Linked DNA regions of Homo sapiens: region 1 is linked to region 2. The links come from fine-mapping of genetic effects on gene expression. A gene starts in region 2. The other region holds a variant in brackets. All regions are shown on one strand. Distances are between the middles of the regions.

Region 1 (11,238 bases), 27 kb after region 2:
TAGTGAGCTATTATATCATGATGGGAATGACAGGAAGAACAGGGAGAAAAATAATATTAATTATAGCAGGCTGAGATTATTCTACATAGCAAACCACAGTTCTGTCCTCTACTGGAAAATTAGCTGTACTTCATGGTTGCCCCAGCTGAGGTGCTGTGGCTAAAAGAAGACTGTCTGAGAAAATGATGAAAGGCACAGTCTGACCTTTGCTCCTTGGAATGTTATTATTGTCCAAATAAACGATGCATATGTTATCAGAGCATCTTTTCTACCAGGTCAGTAGATGTTCTTCCTATGCCTATGCTATTACCCCTAAAGTGGACTAAGGTAGCAATGCATGGACCAGATCTGAGAATACAATTACTGAATACCCTTAAACACTAGTCAACCGAATATTGTAAGCAGAGGTGGAAATGACAACTGTGATTCTTCACTGTCATTACTGGCATGAAGAAGGTCCAGTCTCCTTCTCAGGACCACTGAAGTTCACAGGTCTAGGGAATACTGCTTGTACTGCAGTCTCAGGAATTCTACCCCATGGCATTTCCAGTGTGCAGCCTGCCTGTCATTTGCAGCTGCCCCAATCCTTCTATTTCCAACTGTCATTTATTCTTTCCAATGAATATAGAAACATGCCTGACAAACTTACGCACTATGAGAAAACTTAGAGCAGGGACTGAGTCTTGGAAAAAAGTTAAATGTTTTTCTTTTAAATAGATCTGAATATAATATCTTCCAGGATCACACATCCTAAAATAACTGTGATTCTTTTCTTTAAAAAGCAAACAAACAATATGCCCCTCCAATTAAAAGAAAATTCTAAAATGGAATTGCCAAAATTCTGGATGAGACATTCTTCCCTTTTACCTCTCTCATGCCGGGAAATTCTTTCTGCTTGCTAACCCCCGAATACCATCCGCGATTAGAAATAGAGGAGAACTCCATCGAGCACTGTGTTTCAGGTTCTCAACAAATATCTGGGGCTCTCAGACTGCCTGCCAGGCACCTTGCTAGGCACCAGATCCATAAAACTGGTTCTCACTTCTCTACCCATTTCTCCTTAAAAAGAAAAAAACTCAAAAGTTGGTTTGTGGAGGTTTGGGGTCCAACAACTATTTATGCAAAATATTTGCCGATTTTCACCAGCTTTCTATCCATGGCCTAAAGGAAGCTGAAACAGCTTAGAGGCTGAAGAAATGAACCACAGAGCTTGAAACAGAGGCAATCAAGTCATCTCAAACAGCGGGACTAGGAAATCTAAGTCAAGTCTGAAGAGAAAGGTAGTGAAAGACTTACCATTTTTCTTTTTCTTTTTCAAAAGAAGTCAATGGCCATTCAGTGTTTAAATGAGAACAAAGACTACAGGGGGGAAAAATTAAGGTAAATATTTGTAATAATGTGTCATTGCATTTTACATAATGGGCCAGCAGTCTTTGAAATGTGACGACATCCATATCTACAGTTTTATTTGTTTTTTCTTATTTGCTCTCCTGAGGCAAGTCTCTTTTAGGCTGTCAGCCACCAAAGCAGCTAGCAAATACAAGGACACTGAAAGGCATTCTGCCAACACGACCTCAGAAGTATTTACAGACTGCAATGGAGACCATGATATAATTCAGTTTCTGCATGGCTATACTCTTTGCCAATTAATATTCTAATGTATCCTTTGAGGATGTGGTAAATGTTGGTTTAAGATAAAACAGCAAAGACAAATATTAGTGTGCCACATAAAGGTATTACTTGCCATGAGAGCACTGTTTCTTAGTACAGACTACCTGGATTGCACAACCAGAGATTCTGGTCTCACTGGACCAGAGTGTACAGCCTGGGTACCAGGATTTTCAAATAGCCTCGTCCACCTAGTGATTCTAATAAGCAGCTATGATTGAGAAACACTGTACTCGTCAATTACCAGAATGTTTTGTATTCTATTTGGAACACAACTAAAATTTGACCTGATGAACTCGTGCAAAATATTAAAAGCTGAACCTGCAGAGGCCAGATGCAGTGGCTCATGCCTGTAATCTTACCACGTTGGGAGGCTGAGTCAGGCAGATCGCTTGAACCCAGGGGTTCAAGACCAGCCTAGGCTACATGGTGAAACTTCATCTCTATTAAAAATACAAAAATTAGCCAGGCATGGTGATATGCACCTGTAGTCCCAGCTACTCAGGAGGCTAAGGTGGGAGAATGGCTTGAACCTCCAGAGGCAAAGGTTGCAGTGAGCTATGATCGTGCCACTGTACTCCAGTTTGGGTGACAGAATGAGACCCTGTCTCAAAAACAAACAACAAACAAAAAAGGCTGAAACTGCAGAGAAATAGGGAGAGGACTATGGAAATATTATAGAAAGATAAATAGCTGAAGAAGTAATGTCACCGCCACACACCCTAACCTGATATTTGAGGAAAAGAGACGAAACACACAAGTAACAAAAACAAAAGGTGAAGCTTGGTTAGTCCAATCCTTGATGCCCAGAAAAAAATCTTACAGGAGACCAGAAGATAAGGGCCAACAAAAGCTGAACAGAAGTTCAGTGAAAATCAGTAAGGTCTTTAGGATAGTCTAGTTCTGCCTCATTTTCCTGAGGCAGCAGTGGGAAGCAGCTGGCCCTCCTGCCCCTCTCCCCAGCCCCTCCAGGCCTGCATGCTATCCTTGGGGACCCTAGGCCTCTGCTGGGATTTCCCTCTGCTGTGGGGATTTCCATGCTGGCCTAGAGGCCCGCGGCAAGTAGCCCAGTTGCTAGAGCCTGGAGGCAGGTGAGCAGGGTGGTAGAAGGTGAGGGAGTGATGTCAGAGAAGCCTCTCAACAGACAGCATCAGCTTCCTGACGCTTAGAAGACCCCTTGTTTCTTCCATCTCTTCAGAGCCAGGGCCATCAGGTGGCCCATAAACTCCTTTTTCACATGCAAGCTGAGAAGGCTGTGAGCCAGCCACATGGCAGGGGGTTGAGAGGCCATCACCCTGCGTGTTCACCGCCTCTCCTCGCTGCTGCTGGAAGGAAAGGGCTTTGCCTCCAGTTAAGGGAACATGAGGTCCTCATAAAGGTTTCAGAGAGTTGGAGCAGAGATGGAGGGGCTGATAACTTGTCTCTGTCCCTAATATCTGACAGAAACAAAGAGCAAGGAATACAACACTTACTATTTAACATTTAATTTAGGATGGCACCAATTTCCATTAAGTGAAGCATCAAGGAAAAATGCTGATATTGATAGTCTTCTAGGATCCTTAATCATTCTCATAATTTTAAAAAAATCTAAAGATTTTCTGAGCTAGATATGGTAGTAATTATAATTTTTGTAGTATATATCATGTGTATTACAAAAAGATACATATAAATATGTATAAAATATGATATATTTTCTGTAAATTCTTTATCCTAGTATTTAATTCCCATGACACAATAATTATGCATATTATTAAACCTGTTTCATCGTCGAGTCATTTGGTTAAAATAACTGTATTCGGGGATGTTTAATCCTTACAGCTCCTTGAACCAAAAGCCTGGAGGTTTAGTTACAGGTTTACAAATCACAGGGAAAACTGTTCCTAGTAGCTTTCTCATGCTATCATAGCCTTTGTCTTTTTCTGCCTCTCCTTTGTCAAAATATATCTGTCAGAGAAAGATTTCTCACCATGATAATCAGTAAATCTCCCCAAGAAATGACTGTAAAATTGGATAACATTGTCAAAAATAACAATTTTAGGCCTTTGAAAACTAAGCAAAGACAAGAAAATAAGCAAACAAACCAACTGAGAAGGATTTACCCATTAAATAAAAGACAGATAGACTTTGGGCCTCCATGGTATTCTTGCCTGGGGCTGCTCCCATCATCTCTCCAGCTCAAGGGTCTTGGTAGTTCTACCAGGGCAGGGCTGGTCATGAAAACCAGCAGCTTCACTCCTAGCAGGGCTCACTCGTGTCTAGTGGGACTGTCAGTAAAATAATAAGGCTAGTAACACACATGCCTCATAGTCTGAGGTTGCTCTCACAGATCGGGGGCATTTCAGGCTGGCAGACTAGCCAGACATTTAGCAAAGAGATCCTAGAAATGAGAGCACTGCAGAAAGCCTAGATAAGACCCCAGGCAGACGGGGATGGGATGCTACACACATGCTCATGGGACACCCAGAAGGGCCCAGTTGAAAGTAAAACCCAGGGAAGACTTGAAAACTGTCTGAACTTGGAACATGCTCCTGTTACCACATCAGCAGAAGGTGGAAGCTCTGCTGGCTTGAGGTGTTTGAGCACAACATCTGACCAGTCTTTGGGTGACCACTAAACTACAAGATGCAGGGGAATCCCGTGGGAACCCAGGCTAGTAAAATGAAAATAAGAATTAAAAAAAAAAAAGAAAAAAATAGCTGCCTGACATCAGTGGGGAAACAAGTTCTGCAGAATAAGTCTAGGCAACTTACTAAAACAGCAAGAGCAGCAGCAACAACAAAATGACAACAACCTTTGGGGGGAAAGTAAGAATCCAGAATTTTGACATCATCTATTTGCTAAAATGACTGGTTTTCAACAAAATATCATGAGATAGGCAAAGAAATAAGATGGTATGACCTATATTCAGGAAAAATATCAGTCAACAGAAACTGTCTTGGAGCAGGCCCTAATGTTGAATTTAGCACA[G/T]GAAGAAACAATCCAAAATGAAGCAAAAAAAAAAATGACTGAAGAAAATACTGAGCAGAGCACTAGAGGCCTATGAGAAAACAGCAAGCTGTCATTGGACTCTGTACTCGGTCTCAGAAGAAAGTGATAGGAAAAAAAAATCAAAAGTCTGTGGGAATAACGGCCACACATTGTAAGCACATAACAACACATTCTGAAAAGAAAGAATATCCTAAAAACAGACAAATAAACAATATGTAGAAGTACAATAATAAAAAAAAATGGCTGATTTTCAGGAAAACAGTGCAGCCTCATTTCAAAACACACACACACAAGGTCTGTCAACCTAGAGTTCTCTATATCCAGAAAAAGAACATATATCTAGTAATAATATCCTTCAAAGCAAAGATGAAATGAAGACATATTCATATCAACTAAAGCTGAGAAGAATCCTTTGCCAGTAGACCTACGTTGTGAGAAATGCTAAAAAAAAAAAAAAAAAAACAGGTTTTCATGCTGAAATCATACTAGTCTGAAACTTGATAACTTAGTTCTACAGGAAAGCTTAAAAAGTACCTGAAATGGTAAAGAAGTAGATAAATACGTAATACTATTTTTTCCTAATATCTTTGAAAAAACAGATTTAAAGTTAAAATAAAAGCCTTGTAATTAGGGGTTTGTAATCTATATAGCAGCAAATTATACGACAGTAATAGCAAAAAAGACTGGGAAGGCAAATGGTATTATACTGTTGTAAGCCTCTTACATTACACATAAAGTTCAAGACATACTATACTAAGAGATATATAGACAGTGATATAGTTTGGATCTGTGTCCCTACCCAATTCTCATGTTGAATTGTAATCCCCAATGTTGGAGGTAGGGCCTGGTGGGAGATGATTGGATCATGGAGGCAGTTTCTCATGAATAGTTTAACACCATACCCCTTGGCAATGTTCTTATGATAGTGAGTTCTCGTGAGATCTGGTTGTTTACAAGTGTGTGGCACCCCCCACCTTGGTCCTTCTCCTGCCATGTAATACACCTGCTCCTGCTTTGCCTTCTGCCATGAGTCAAAGCTCCCTGAAGCCTCCCCAGAAGCAGACACTGCCTTGCTTCCTATACACCCTGCAGAACTGGGGGCCAATTAAACCTCTTTATAAATTACCCAGGCTCAGGTATTTCTTTATAGCAGTGTGAGAACAAATTAATACAGATAAATAGTGTATTAGTCTGTTTTCACACTGCTATAAAGAAATATCCTGAGACTGGGTAATATACGAAGGAAAGAGGTTTGATTAACTCATAGTTGCACATGGCTGGAGAGACCTCAGGAAACTTACGATCATGTGAGAAGGCAAAGCAGAAGCAAGGACCTTCTTCACAGGGCGGCAGGAGAGAGAATAGTGATGAGCGAAGAAGGAAGAGCCCTTTATAAAACCATCAGATCTCGTGAGAACTCATTCACTATCATGAGAACAGCATGGGGAAACTACCCCCATGATCCAATCAACCCCCACCAGATCTCTCCCTAGACACATAGGGATTATGGGGATTACAATTCAAGATGACATTTCGGTAAGGACACAGCCAAACCATATCAGATGGATGGATGGATGGATGGATAGATACATAGATAGATAGATAGATAGATAGATAGATAGATAGATAGATAGATGGATCCCTAGGATCAACTACTGAAGAATAAAGCAAAGGGTAAAAATAAAAAGTCAAGGAACGATATAAAATAGAATACTAGGCCGAGGCGCGAGGATCACGAGGTCAGGAGATCCGGACCATCCTGGCTAACACGGTGAAACCCCGTCTCTACTAAAAATACAAAAAAAAAAAAAGTAGCCGGGCGTGATGGCAGGCGCCTATAGTCCCAGCTACTCAGGAGGCTGAGGCAGGAGAATGGCATGAACCCGGGAGGCGGAGCTTGCAGTGAGCCAAGATCGCACCACTGCACTCCAGCCTGGGCAACAGAGCAAGACTCCGTCTCAAAAAAAAAAAATAGAACACTAAAAATACATATGTTTCACAAACGATATGTATTTGGGCAATATAAAGAATTCTTGCAATTAAGTAGTTTTTAAACAAAACAAATAACCCAATAAAAATGGGCAAAAGATTTGGACAGACATTTCACAAAAGAAGATATAAGAATGCTCAACATGTGAGTAATCAGGAAAATAAAAGTTAAAGCTACAATGAGATACCACTATACACCCACTAGAATGGTTAAAATTAAAAAGCCTAAAAATGCCAAATGTTACTTACGATCTTGCAATTCCTCTCCTTGGTGTTCACCCAAAAGAAATGAAAACATATGTCCACCAAGTAACTTGTACAAGATTGTTCTTTGCAGCTTTATTCACAATAGCCAAAAACTAAAAGCAACATGATGTCCATTAAAAGGAAAATGGATAAACAAATTGTGGTATATTTATACAATGCAAAATGAGTCAACCAAAGCAGAAAAAATGAATTAACTACCGATACATGTGATAACTTGGATGAATCTCAAAGATAATACGTTGAGGGCAGAGGTGCAATGGGGAAGCCAGACACAAGAGTCCATTTATGTCAATTTCAAGAACAGGCAAAGACTGTATCAAAACATCTCATGCCCCTCATAAATACATACTATGTACCCACAAAAATTTTAGAAATTAAAAAGTTAACAATATGTAAATAAAAAGAATAGGCAAACAGGCAAAGCTAATTTGTCAGGATATCGAAACAGAGATTAACTTTTTTGGGAGGGAGTGGGGAACTGACTGGGAAAAAGCGCGAGGGAATTTTCTAGGGTGATGTAAAGTTCTGTGTAAATGTTCTGTGTAACTGGGATCATCAAAATTTGAGAAATGTGCATTTTACTATAATTACATTTAGGTAATGTAATTTAATAAACTTCAATAAAAATACGCCTCAAACCCCACATTCTTCCTTTTTTTTTCTTCATTTCATTGACTGTGACTTCCCTTCAAAGCTACTGAAGAAAGGGAGGCATAGATTCGTTACCACAAGTTCAGCTCAGCTCCCAACTCTGAACATTCTTTTCAGTTCTTGACTATGGTCATCCCCCAACTCCTGAAGTAGGAGGATTTTCCAAGCATAAAAGAATGACCAGGTTTAGATTTAGACCAGATTTTCTAGAACCTAAGAAAATAAGCATATGTACTTTGCTAAACTACCTGCCTATCTGATAACCTGATTTTAGTATCTGATGTAGAACTTGGAAGCCATAAATTTGAAAATCCCAAATTGCAAATTAACAAATTGAGCATTTATTTGAGGAACAAGTATCATGTTTATGAGCAGCACCCACAGAGTTTGGAAGAGAAGGTTTACCCACTAATAGCCATCCTAACTTACGTTTAAAAAAGTTCATAAACCTCTAGTCAGCTATAGAACATGGGATCATGGGGGCTGCACAGTGACTAAAAGGGATTTTAAAACTGTAAATATGCCCAGGCACAGTGGCTCACGCCTGTAATCCCAACACTTTGGGAGGGTGAGGCGGGTGGATCACCTGAGGTCAGGAGTTCGAGACCAGCCTCACCAACATGGTAAAACCCGTCTCTACTAAAGATACAAAAATTAGCCAGGTGTGGTGGCGTGTGCCTGTAATCTCAGCTACTTGGAAGGTTGAGGCACAAGAGTCACTTGAACCCAGGAGGCAGAGGTTGCAGTGAGCTGAGATCGTGCCATCGCAACTGCAGCCCGGGTGACAGAACGAGACTCTGTTTAAAAAAAAAAAAAAAAAAAAAAAAAAACTATATCCGAATTATTAAAAATTTAACCAATTAGTCAAAATAAACTTTGTGAAAGAATTGAGCCAATCATTGTTGCCAATGTGCTAAGGACTCAGGGATCAGGACAGATGGAACAAAAATGTGAACACATTTGTAGTCATATTTAGATAAGAAAATCATTCTTAATCCATATGATAAAAGTATCCTTTTATCTTTTCTAATTATCATTCTATAGATATTAATGTGAGAATACTCTCCAACTCCTTTAAAAAACCTGTTGCTCAAAATGTTCTTCATTTAAAGGAACTGGTAATGATAAGTGGGAAATGACACATACTACTGGTGTAGCTGGTGGAGCCATTGACATCTCACCTCTGTGGGTTGTTTAGAGATAAAATTCGTTTCTTTCATAGCAAGGAGCATTCTAAGGATTCTTGGTGAGGTGGTTTTGTTTTATTCCCTGGAATATGGAGAATAGCTGTGGCAGATATCCAGGGGTTGTTTTCTCCAGCATGTTCTAACATACTTTAACTTTTTTTTTTTTAATTATACTTTAAGTTCTAGGGTACATGTGCACAACGTGCAGGTTTGTTACATATGTATACATGTGCCATGTTGGTGTGCTGCACCCATTAACTCGTCATTTACATTAGGTATATTTCCTAATGCTATCCCTCCCAGCCCCCCTCACCCCACAACAGGCCCCGGTATGTGATGTTCCACTTCCTGCGTCCAAGTGTTCTCATTGTTCAATTCCCACCTATGCGTGAGAACATGCAGTGTTTGTTTTTTTGTCCTTGCAATAGTTTGCTGAGAATGATGGTTTCCAGCTTCATCCATGTCCCTACAAGGGACATGAACTCATCATTTTTTATGGCTCCATAGTATTCCATGGTGTATATGTGCCACGTTTTCTTAATCCAGTCTATTATTGTTGGACATTTGGGTTGGTTCCAAGTCTTTGCTATTGTGAATAGTGCTGCAATAAACATACGTGTGCATGTGTCTTTATAGTACTATGATTTACAATCCTTTGGGTATATACCCAGTAATGGGATGGCTGGGTCAAATGGTATTTCTAGTTCTAGATCTCTGAGGAATCCCCACACTGTCCTCCACAATGGTTGAACTAGTTTACAGTCCCACCAACAGTGCAAAAGTGTTCCTATTTCTCCACATCTTCTCCAGAACCTGTTGTTTCCTGACTTTTTAACGATCACCATTCTAACTGGTGTGAGATGGTATCATGCTACCTGACTTCAAACTATACTACAAGGCTACAGTAACCAAAACAGCATGGTACAGGTACCAAAACAGAGATTCAGACCAATGGAACAGAACAGAGCCTTCAGAAATAATACCACACATCTACAACTATCTGATCTCTGACAAACCTGACAAAAACAAGAAATGGGGAAAGGATTCCCTATTTAACAAATGGGGGTGGGAAAACTGGCTAGCCATATGTAGAAAGCTGAAACTGGATCCCTTCCTTACACCTTATACAAAAATTAATTCAAGATGGATTAAGGACTTAAATGTTAGACCTAAAACCACAAAAACCCTAGAAGAAAACCTACGCAATACCATTCAGGACATAGGCATGGGCAAGGACTTCATGTCTAAAACACCAAAAGCAATGGCAACAGAAGCCAAAATTGACAAATGGGATCTAATTAAACTAAAGAGCTTCTGCACGGCAAAATAAATTACCATCAGAGTGAGCAGGCAACCTACAGAATGGGAGAAAAATTTTGCAATCTACTCATCTGACAAAGGGCTAATATCCAGAATCTAAAAAGAACTCAAACAAATTTACAAGAAAAAAACAAACAACCCCATCAATGAGTGGGTGCAGAATATGAACAGACACTTTAACTGTTTTGAAAGAATATGTGGTAAATCAGGATCCCCAGGGGACAGACTCTGAGGCTCTGAGATTGCATGTAAAAGCTTTATGAAGAACTGCTTTTAGGATTGGGCCAAGAGAGGTTGGACTATGATGCATGCACAGCAGGGGCCCCAGCCATCCTACAGGAAGCCCTGGGGCTGTGGTGGCCCCCAGAGTTGTGCTGCCTTGATGCACGCAAGACAGCCATTTCGTGTGGGAAGACCTTGGGGATGGGACATGACCTTGGGCAAGGCAGCACCGATGGCCGAGGCCAGTTCTTGGAGGAGAATCAACTGGGAGCCATCCACTGCCACACTCCCACAGATGTAGGAATGAGTACCTCCTTCTTGACATGGGACTTGAGTGGATCACCACCACTTCCATGCCACAGTTTCAGAGATTCTGAACCTCTCCTTGAGACTGGCCAATGACTACATAGCCACAGCAGCTGATGTACATTAATACCAAAGTTAACCTAAACTATCATTTGTTTCTGTTCTTGCTACTATTTTCAGCTTGCCTGTGACTCTCTGGAAGATTTGAATTTCTACTCCCTAAATTATGTCTATCATGTCTATCTTTTTACATGGATCATTGGTGCTGTTTAGAATGGATCTGAAGGGCAATCCCATATCTGTGGGAGAATATATTTCCATATCCAGAGAGAATCCCCACCCACCTTGCTCCTTCTAGCCTGATATTGCTCGGTTTAGGAGAAGACTTCCTAAAGTTGAGAAACTGTGATCTCAGAGTTTGGATTTTAAATTAAAGCTCTGTTTGTTGATACAGCTGAGAGTGATTTTGTGTGTGTGGTGGTAGAGGGTTAGATTTACTGCCATTATGGGCAAAATATACTGGTTTCTGCTTCTGCACTGAAATTTAACAACTACATCTTTCCATATTACTGAAGCCATGGACTGATGTGTGGCCTGTGGAATGAAGCCTGTGAAGGTGGTTAACTGGATTCTTAGGCAA
Region 2 (11,238 bases):
AAGAAATAAAAACATTCAGAATAACTTTTTTCTTTGTCACCACGTTGGCTTAATTAGACAGGAATTGGTCCTACTTTGATTTTGTAAATGAGGAATTTAAGAAGCAGCAGTAATAATAATTACTGCAATATTTTCAGCCTTTCTAGGTTGTAAATTCTCAGCACTGTCGTTATTTGCATTCAGCCCTCACCTAAGGTTTTCTCAGATGCCTGTGGTTTAGATACCCCCACAGTAGGGATACCTTCCATTAAACTTAACTCACATGTAAAGCCTTTCCAACTTTAGATGAGTAGTGAAAAGCTGCCTTTAGCCTGTCATTGAAGTACCTTCTACTACCAGGGCAAGCTTTTAAGTGAGGGTCTTGATAAGAGCATTCCTCTGAGATGATCACTCTAAGACTTGGAGTAGGAAAGGAAATGAAATCCCAAGTTGCCTTATCCACCTCCTACCCCTCCTCTTGGTTCATCATAGTAGACTTCTATCTCCCCCAATTTTTTTACACACATGAACAGGGTCTGTAAACATAAGTTGTCGCCTCCTACATTCCTTTGACAATCACCATTTCCTCTAGGAAAAACTCTTCCTGCTCCACCCAGGTAGGGTTAGGTGAGCCTCCTCTATACCCTAACAGCAGCCTGCATGTATTTCTATTATGTCATTTGTTAAACTACCATGAGTTTGTTTTTTATAAATTATAAGAAGCTTTTCATTAATATCGATAAATGTGCATATATTATGGGCTTTATACCTTTGATGATACCATGTTCTTCTATTATGTGGTGGTTTAGAGATTCATAAAATTCATTCTTACCTATTTAAATTTGTCAAGAAATGTGCCCTTGGTTGACGGTAGGTAAAGAGGTTGCAAACTTGGTATCAGTAAGGCATAAAATCTGGTTTGTTCTGACCGCTGTATTATATTTCTGCTGTTGAATAACAAATTATGCAAACAAGGCAAACTTGAAACGATAGCCACTTATTATTGCACACAATTCCAGGTAAGCTTAGCTAATTCTTCACTCAGAGTCTCACACTCAAGATATCAGCCAGCTGCCATTCCCATCTGAGTCTTGGGGACTTCTTCCAAGCTCATTGGTTGTTGGCAGAATTCATTTTCTTCTTACCCTTTCCATGTGGGTTCTCCATCTTCAAGCCAGCAATGGTAGTTTGAATTATTCTTATGCTTCAAATCTCTCTGACTCCCTCGTCTGCTGCCAGCCAGAGAAAAATCTCTGCTTTTAAAAGCATGATTAGTTTTGCCTACCTGGACAATTTCCCTTTCACCCTAATATGGGCATAATATCAAGTTCAGGGGCCTTGGAAGTCATCTTAAAATTACGCCTTTTACAACCATGACTCTGGCACTTTTGATCAAATATTTCTGCATTCTTCATCTTTTTGTCTATAACAAGGATATGATTTTCTACCAGGGATGTTTAGAATTGAGAAATGCAAGCTGAAGTGGTCCTGAAGTAGTCAGAGAATCACTGAACCAAATGGAATCAATCCCACAGTCTTGACTTCAGAGGAAAGTGTATGCTGACCAAATGAGCAAACCAGTCATCTCTACTGGGAAAGTAATAATAGAGGTGGCCCTGATTTCAGAAGCAGAGTGAGATGCCAATGACTCCACTAAAATATTTCATTGTCCCAATAAAGTAAGGTTGTGACCACCATCTGAGTCGCTGCTGTCAAAGCACAACTTCAGTTATACTGTGCAGACTAGAATTTCTGAGCCCAATATTATTAAGCTGATTTTCTGATTATAATGGAGTCCAATTTCAGCTATTTCTCTGTGCACTTCCTATTTTTATAAAATTATATCAATCATAATCACTGTGATAATATTGTCAGTGCTGTCTAACTTACATATTTAGCTTATAAGTTAACAAAATCTTTAACAAACCAGCCACAAAAGTTAGCTTTATGAACCAGACTTATAGAGAATATAAAGGGACATGAAACCCATAGGAAAAGGAAATTCATCTCCTAAATAGTCACGATTATTTAGGCAAGATTTATTCCTTTTCAGTAAACCCCTTGAAAGAGGAGACTATCTGTGTCTTACCATTTTGCCCCCAACAAACTGCCTAATTTCATATCTAGAACATAGTAGGTGCTCAAGAAATACTTGCTGAATAATGAATGAACATTTGTTAGGAAACTTTAGTAGGAAGGATTTTAATAGTAAAACCGTGAAACTAATCTAAGTGTCTAAAACTAGAGAACGATTTAATAATGTTTTAACAGCCTCCAAAATTATGTTGAGGAAGAATAAGATATATCATAACATAAAAATTGTGATACAGATTATAGATGAAAAATTTAGGTTACTAACAAGAATGTATAAAATATTCCATTAATTATATATACATATATACACATATTTTACTATTTTATATATTAAAAGATATACAGCATTATACTATGTTGGTTATCTCTGGGGATCAGATTACAGGTTGTTTTTACTTGCTTCCTTGAGATTTTTTTCTGTAATATCTGAATTTTATTCCTTTCTTTCCAAATTTGGGGAAAAAAATAAGGTTTCTGAAAATTAAAAAAAATAGATAATATATCAAGTTTGGACTGCAAACCAGAGCTTTCAGCAGAACATAGTTGAGTCTTTGCCATAGACACCAACTCATTTCCTTCCTTTCTGTGGCATTCATTCCACTATCATGCATTTTTTCCCAAATGAGATGACAAAATGGAAAGACCATTTCTACACCAAGCATTGAGCCATAGGAAAGCGGAATGTCAGTCAGGGCATCTGCAGATCAGGAAATCATGTCACAGAAAACAGGACCTGTATAAGATCTAAGTTTATGCCATTTGCTGATCAGTTACCATATTTCAAAAATTATACACACTGTAATCCCCTCTCTCTGTTCTGCGGGCCCTTTGAAGAAGAAGGCATTTTTAGCAAATGTCCTTTAAATGGAGAAAAGAGGCAGATCAATTTACTCCAAACTACTTCAGATTAGATCTTAGTCAGAATGCCTCCCCAGAGTGGAAGCTCTTCTCCAGAAGTACCTTTCCTGTTGGATTCAGGTTCAGGGTTGGAACCCACAGACCCAGAATGATAGGCTATCAGCAAAGAAAAGCATGTCATTAGCATCCAGCAGCCCTCAGTTTGTCCTTGTCTCCTTCATCTTCCTTCAAACTTCTATTTTTCTCTTAGATTTCCCTGAAACTCTTTTAAAAATTCCTTTTGAAACAAGTGGGTGCCTGACTCATTGCCTATTTCCTCTGTTTTCCACCCAAGTGGTAAACAATGGGCTCTATTCAAATATGGACCGTCTGTGAGCTGGGAACCTGCGTGCAGACAAAGCTCCTTGTCCCAGGGCAGACTGCCAGACCCATGCTCTCCTCCACTCACCTCCTAGGCTGTTTAATAAGGGCCACTTGGCAAAAGGCAACATATTGTCATGGTCCTGTGACCTTGTAGTTCTCTGTCTCTTTTCCCTTCAGCCCGAAAGAATATTTCTCTAAATTCTCAAGTCAACGCATTTGAGAACAGCCTTTCAAAAGATACTTGTAGGAATAACAGAAGGTAGTTCAGGACCCAGTCAAAAGGACTATCTGGCTTTATTTACAATAATTTTAATGCCTCTGTCCTAACTCCTCCAAAGTTATTAATATTTTGTCTGTAGATGGTGGTTGCCAGGAAAGAGAATCTTGCAAAGTCAAGGGCATGACAAAGCTGAGAAATAGAGAAGGCTAGCCTAAGACTTTGGGAAGAGAAAGGTGAAGGAAAAAAATAGTAGGAATCAGACTATGGAACAAGAAGAACGGGACAAAGTTTCAAGTCCAAAGTGAGCAGGTAAGACAAAAATAACTGAACTTAAATGACAGAGTAGTCTTCAGGGAAAAAAAGAGAGAGAGAGAAGAGACTAGAGAACACATTTGCTTCAAGTGCTTGAGGAAAGCACACCTCCAGTGTGTAGAGGAATCACAGGAGGAGATTTTGCATATGGTGTCCAAACTCCCTTCCCAAGAATTTATGTTTCCTGAAGAACACTGCCAACTTCCCCCCTCCATCTTAAAATGGTAAGAAAGAGAGTTAAAGAGAAGGTAAGGGAAACAAATAAATAATTACGATAATCCAGTTATATTAGATATGTGTGCATTTTAAAATAACTTCAACAACCATATGAAATTGTGGCTCTTGTTCCTGTTTTTTTTACAGATGAGAAAATTGTAGCTTATGGAGTTTAAATAATTTGCTCACAGTCACAGAATTAGCGCTAGAATTTAAAATCAAGTGGTATGACTAAAAAACCATGAGAAAATTCATTCCTTCTTTTACAAAACAAGTCACTCTCTACTGACAATCAAACCCAAGTCCTCTAGATTCTCCATAATATTATTTACATCTATCCTCTTCTATCCAGCCCTACTGTCCCTCCCTCATAGCTTACTAAGTTTTCCCCAAAAGCCTCCTGACCTCCCTTCTCTGTGTCCCCCCATTCTTTTCCTTTCTTCTTTCCTTTTCCTTCCTCTCTCAACATGTATCTCATCAATTCCAACCTGCTTAAAACCCTTCAGTGACTTCCCACTGACCTAAGATTAAGTCATTGCTCTCAAATATGGCACTGCTTACCCATTGTTCTGCATATTATATTCTCTCTCCATCACTTTCTATGTTCCAACCACATTGGACTTCTTTAATATCCTCAAAACTACAAGTCGTATACCAGGGAAGGGCTTTTACACAGGCTGTTTATTCACTGTGGAACACTCCCTCCTCCTCTTCTCTTAGCTCAGCCATTCGCAAACTTTTGGGGCTCGGCCCCTTTGTGCTCTCAAATCTTCTGAAGAACCCCAAAGACCTTTTCATTTTAAAAAAGGTAGATTATATCATTATATCATGTTGCAAATTAGAACCAATTCTTTTTTAAATATTTAATTCATTTTAAAACAACATAGTAAACTGATTATACCTTAACATAAATAACATTTTATGAAAACATAGCCACGTTTTCCAAAACCAAAAATACATGAGTGAGACTAGTAGTGCTGTTATGCATTTTTTGCAAATCTTACCAATATCTGGCTTACTAAAGGATAAATGGATTCTCATGTCTGCTTCTGCATTCAATCTGTTGTGAAATCTATGTTATGCAGCTTCTGTAAAACTCCATTGTACACTTGTAATGCAATAAGAATGAAAAGGCAAATGACTTCTTAGTATTATAGGAAAACAGTCTTAACTCCTCCCTAAAAGTGTCTTAGGCAGAGACATCCAGGAAACCCAAGGTATACATTAGGAACTCTTAATTATCCTTAATATCTTGTCTTAAAGTTAAAATTTGCAAAGATGTCTTTCCTGACCTCAAAGAATAGGTCTGAGTCCTCTTGTTATATGTTTCTATAACATTCTTACCTCTCTGTCAAAACACTCACCGTACCTATAATTTATTCAATAATTTGCATAAGGACAGGGACCATACCAACTTTGTTCATAGTGAGTCTCCAGTGCTCAGCACACAGCAAGGACTCAGAAAATCTTTGTGGGAGGAAGCAGGAAATAGAAGGGGGAGAGCAAGGAAGTAAGGCCTCAGACTCAATGACACAGCTCCCTGACAATCGCTCCATTCCTTCAGCAGGATGTACACAGAGATATAACTTTCTACAGCATCCACTGCAGCTCTGGGCTCCATTTCCCTTTGAAATGGGATGGGAGAAAGGGGCAGGTAACAGACTGGAGTGAGGAGACTGAGGAGAAACTGTAGAGAATAATACTTAGGAGTACACGTGCTGGATTCTCTCATTAAGGTAATCATTCAATATTTACTAAGCAGCTACAATTTGCCAGGCATTCTTCTGGGCACTTGGGACACATCAGTGAACAAAATAGAGAAAAGTTTCTGGCCTCAAGCGATTTACAGGCAGACCTGAACTCAACCACACATCCCTCCACTTGAGTTGGCCTGGATTGTTTGTTTAATCTTCTTGTGCCTTATTTCTCTCATCAGTAAAATGTGAACAAGCCTTGAGAGTTTCCAGGTGAGAACTAAATGAAAGAATATCTTTAATGTACCCAATAGAATCAGGCACCTGGTAGGTGCCTAATAAATGGAAATCTTTCTGCTGGCAACTCTTATTCCAAAATTGATTTTTTTTTCATGTACAGAAACTATTCGATAGATTAGAATCCAGTCACTCACAGGATATCACTTGGGTAGTTGTCGGGGAGGGGGAGTGGTGTATTTAGGGTCTTCTCAGGATTCGGGGGGCTGGCTGCAGTGTCATTTTCCTATAGAGAAGCATCACCTCTGGCTTCCTCTCTTCTTCACAAGCCACCTGGATATGTTTACATTGAACTATGCAAGGTACTATTGTAGTCTTAAGCTATGCAGTATTTCAAAACAGACTTTCCTGAGGACTCTTACAAAAATAATTATGCCACGAGTGTCAGACTATTTGAAAGAAGATATTCATAGCCAACTGTTTGTAAGGGACCACCTCCTTACATGGGTTTATTGTGTATCATAGGGTTGCTGGGGTTTTCCAACTTCACCCTCTGAGTGTGGGTTGGCCTTTCTGAGAAAGCTACACTGCCTTTGAAGTAGGACTACCAGGAGAGAGGGGGGAAAAAAAAGTGTAGGGCTCTTTGACTTTTCATTTCCCTTTCTATCTACTTACTCTTTGTGCCTTCTCCAGTTAGTACCACACTAGAGAAGTGTTAGGTAGAGGAAGAGGAAGAAAGAAAAAAGGACAATCTTATCAGTTGATTTTGCTATGTGTTACCAGTCTGGTAAAAACATTTGAAGTTAGAAAGTATTCAAACATGAATAAAGTTTGGGAATTACTTGTATGGATTTAATTTCCTCAGAATACCCTCATTGTTCCTTCGCAGGAAATATTCATGAGTCAACTATCCAGAATCATAGTTATTATTCAAGCGGTGTGGGTTTAAAAGGAGATTTGATGCCATGGCAAACCTCACTGACTTAGACTGTTCTTCAAGTTAAAGAGCAGGATGATGTCTGAAGTGGCTGAAACACATATGGCTTCAGTGTGTCAAGAAGACCTGAAAGATCCCACATGGAAGTGAAATTCATTACTGGCAAGCACGGTGGCAGGAGACCCCAGAGGGCTGAGCCGCAAAGAATTTGCAGAGCCTTATGGCTAACTCCATGGCCTAGTTTGATCTTGAAGTTACTGTCTTGGATAATCCTCTCAAATCTGTTCCTGCACTTAAGAGCCACTCATCACATGACGGAGCTCCCTCTCAGGTTCCTTTACATCGCCCTGTCAGAAATGACTTTCAGGGAACAGACATCACATCAAATCATCCAACAGATGTCCCTTTCAAATAAGTTGGAGCAGAACCAACTATATGGAGAAGTCATAAACAAAGAAACAGACAACCCAGTGATTTCCAGCGGATTGACATTACTCTTTGCACAGAAACCTCAGTCTCCTGGGTGGAAGAACATGAGTTCAACAAAGCGTGTGTGCACTATATTGGCTGACTCTTGCCGTGCTCAGGCTCATGCTGCTGACAGGGGAGAGAGGGGACATTTTGGAGTCCAAATCTTGCATCATTTCATTGAAGTGTTCAATGTCATGGCTGTAAGAAGTAACCCATTTTAATAACTGGCATCAAAGGATTTAGGAGAGAGAAACCCAGTATCCAGACCCATTTCCGTCAGTGACACTCTCCTCGTATTGGGAGGATTGGCCAGAATCGTCTGATTCCTGTTTCTGATTTCCTTCCTCACTGGCATCAGAGTATTTCACTATAGGAAAACTAATATCTAACTGAGCTCCAAGTGCTAAATAACAGCATCTCATGTTCATTCCGGGTCACCAAGAGGTTCAGGGTGACCAAGTCACAAACTATAAATTTGAACATTTGATGATTTTTGCAGGAGACTGGGTGAACAAAGGAAAACCCGAGAGATACATAAAGGTGGAAACTAGGATTTCTCATTTGAATTATTTAACATGCCTCACTCTAATGGTTATAAATGTAAAGGAAATGCAGGTTCTTCAAGAAGGTGAAACGAAGTTACTGAATTTAAGTTTTTTTTTTTTTAAACCTACTTTAGAATAGGAAACATGCTTACTAATATTTACAAGGCACTACAAGGCACCAGCCAAAAAGCCTGATTTATTGGCAGGATATTCTTGTTGTTGTTGTTTCTATTGTCCATATAGGCAGGCAATTAATACTTTTTAGAAAATTAAGTTGCCAACTCAACACTGCCTACTTTTGAATTTTTATTCTAGCAACAGCCGATAATTTATTGGAAATTCCTTATGTGCTGGGCACTACGCTAGACATTGGGAGTACGAAAATTAATATGGTAAAGATCCTGGCTTTAAAGAGTCTTTAACATTATTTCAGCAGTTTTATTACAGGTGTATATGTTGGAATTGACAGAACACTTAGCTCAAAGCAAGGGTTCAAGCATGACTTTGCAGAGTAGATTTCAGCTGAGCTTAAAGGATGTGAGAATAAGTATACACATTTTTTAAATTACCCAGAATGTAGTGCCTACAGAAGTGCTTGAGCCTCAGTTGCTTCTAAGAGTCCAACTTCAGAACTTGTATCTTCTAGATTGAGCTCATTGCTTAATTTCTAGCCAACATAGCCCATCTCTCTCAGCTGAATACTAAGCTCATCAACTTCTCCTTTGATCTAGGTCTTGATTAGAATGTTGAACATGACAAGGCTGAAGGCAGAAACCATAGAAACTTCTATCCAGAGTTACACTCGTCTCTTAATAGCTGCCTACTGTTGCAATCAGAATAAACTCACTTCTTGCCCAATTATGACAGTTCATTCACCTTCTACTCAAGGGAGACTTTAAGAATTGTTGAAGTTGAACTTCTCAGGTTCTTATACTTAGTGACACTGTTCATGCAATGGCTCAGTATTTCTTGATTTCTCAGAACCAGCAAAAGTCACAAACTGAATCCTCAAATTGGAATTCGTAAGTGACTAACTTGTAGCATAACTTTATTATACTAGGAAAGATGGGGCAAGGGACAGAAAAAATATCTGTAACATCTTATATGTTCAAATATAAGCGCTTTATGTATATTTAGTCATTCAAACTCCAAATACACATTAAGAAGTAGTCATCAATATTCCACTCTCTAATTCTACAATTTCTACCTTTTTAGATTCCACATATAAGTGAGATCATATGGTATTTGTCGCTCTGTGCCTGACTTATCTTACTTAACATAATGTCCTTAGGTTCATCCCTGTTTGAAAATGGCAGAATTGCCTGTTTTTTTTTTTAAGGCTAAATAGTATCCTATTTTGTATATTCAGCACATTTTAAAAAATCTGTTCATCAGCTGACGGACACTTAGGTTGATTCCTTATCTTGGCTCTTGTGAATAATGCTGCAATGAACACAGGAGCTCAAACATCCCTTTGAAATACTGATTTAAATATCTTTGGGTATAAACCCGGAATTGGCTGTGGGGAGTTAGACAGGGAAAATGTCCACATTGCTCTACGGATACAAAGTTTCAGTTAGGAGGAATAATTCTGGTGTTCTATTGCACAGCACAGTGTCTATAGTTAATAGTAATGTATTATATATTTCAAAATAGCTAAACAAAGAGAATTTTAATGTTCTTACCGCAACGAAATAATTGTTTCAGAAAATAAATATGCTAATTAGCCTGATTTGCTCATTCCACAGTGTATATACATGTATCAAAAAGTCACATTGTACCCCATAAATATACAAAATTATTTGTCAATTACAATAAAACTTTTTTTTAAAAAGTAATTATCAAGGTCTCCATTTGACTGATAAAACTTAGATTAAATCTGAGCTAGAACTCAGCGAATATTGCACCAAATGTTCTTCCCATTATGCTCCTCCCTCTTCCTCGCTAAGATTGCGCCCCTTCTCCTCCCTAACTCGCCACAAGTTCCCATCACCCTTCACTAGTTTTCAAACCAAGGAAAACATCATTCAATGAATGATAATACTTGACCAAGAACTTTTAAAGAGTTTTGAGTTAAAGAAAATGTGACTTGGGTTAAAGTCACATTTTAAACTTGTGATTTGTGTTAAAGAAAATGAAACCCCTAAATGACTTTTCTTAAATAGGCATTCAAAAAAAATTGACCTTTTAATCACTTAATCCTCACATATCTATATGCTATGGACTGAATTGTGCTCCCCAAAATTCATATTTGAAGCCCTAACCACTTCCCCACAATGTAACTGTATTTGGAGATAGGGCTTTTATTTAGAGATGGAACATTGAACCTAATTAAGGTTAAATGAGGTCATTGTCATTAGGGTGAGACCCTAATCCAATAGGACTCGTGGGTTTATTAAAAGAAGGGACTGATTCTCTCTCTCTCTCTGCCTCTCTCTGTCAGGTAAGGACACAGTAAAAGGAAGTAATCTGGGAGCCAGTAAGAGGGCCCTCCCTAGAATCTGATCATGCTGGAATCCTGATGTTGGACTTCCAGCCTCCAGAACAATGAGAAATAGATTTATGTCATTTAAGCTACTCAGTATTTTGTTAAGGCAACTTCAGCAGACTAATACACTATATAATCTATGGACCCCCTCCAGGAATGCCATTTGGACCATTTTACAAGAAGAGTATGTGAGATTCAAAGGGGTCATTAGGACATACGATGAGGAAAGTTGGTTATTCCAGGGTTTTACTTACTAAATTCCAGTACATAATTCGAACCACTGTGGTACACAGTACATTTTCCCACAGGAATGCCATAGCCTGCTATTCCAACAGGATCAGGGAATCAAAAGTGAGCAAATTCAGGCGGTGCAACTGTACTATATTGGACAGATGGACAGATGGGCATGACTCTGCGGTTAGCGGGAGGAGCACCATCTGTTGCGGACACACAAGTGCTTCTTGCTCTCCTTGGGAAAACTCACAGATGTTTCCATAACAGGTGTGTTTGCTTCCCCCATGTAGCTTTCCCAGACACGTCACACACAGCACTTTCACTGAGTTACCCTTTCTACTCAGGCAAAGGAAGTAGAGAAATGAGACCTCTGCCTTGATAATTTAGAGAGAAAAAAGATGCGACTTGGTTGCTTCTGAGGTGCCTGAATGTACTTTTGGCAGAGAGTGGGGAAATAGAAAAAATACCAAATACTGAAGAAAGCATATTTCTTAAACCGTGAATAATTGTTGAATTCTTTATTTTTATAAGTTCCAAGGGACATGTGCAGGATGTGCAAGTTTGTTACACGGGTAAACGTGTGCCACGGT

Direction of the effects. Alleles are on the strand shown, and positions count from the first base shown. SD is a standard deviation of normalised expression in the study named.
In carriers of allele T in region 1, the expression in fibroblasts of the gene that starts at base 5,584 in region 2 tends to be higher than with G alone (small effect, 0.20 SD a copy in GTEx).

Evidence for each region. PIP is the estimated chance that this variant, and not a neighbour inherited with it, causes the effect.
Region 1: its variant is fine-mapped to the expression of LINC02915 in fibroblasts (GTEx, PIP 0.97).

The regions. Positions count from the first base shown.
Region 1 is chr15:39,272,544-39,283,781 of GRCh38, forward strand. All of the region lies in intron 1 of LOC105370777 (a long non-coding RNA gene), which reads right to left. Among named protein-coding and RNA genes, the nearest start is that of LINC02915, 27 kb to the left of the region's middle. RefSeq lists enhancers at 2,323-2,824, 2,825-3,324. The variant G/T (reference allele first, on the strand shown) is at 4,636.
Region 2 is chr15:39,245,086-39,256,323 of GRCh38, forward strand. LINC02915 (long intergenic non-protein coding RNA 2915) reads left to right here and starts at 5,584. Exons shown (of 2, transcript NR_144508.1): 1 at 5,584-5,778; 2 at 6,974-9,760. All of the region lies in intron 1 of LOC105370777 (a long non-coding RNA gene), which reads right to left.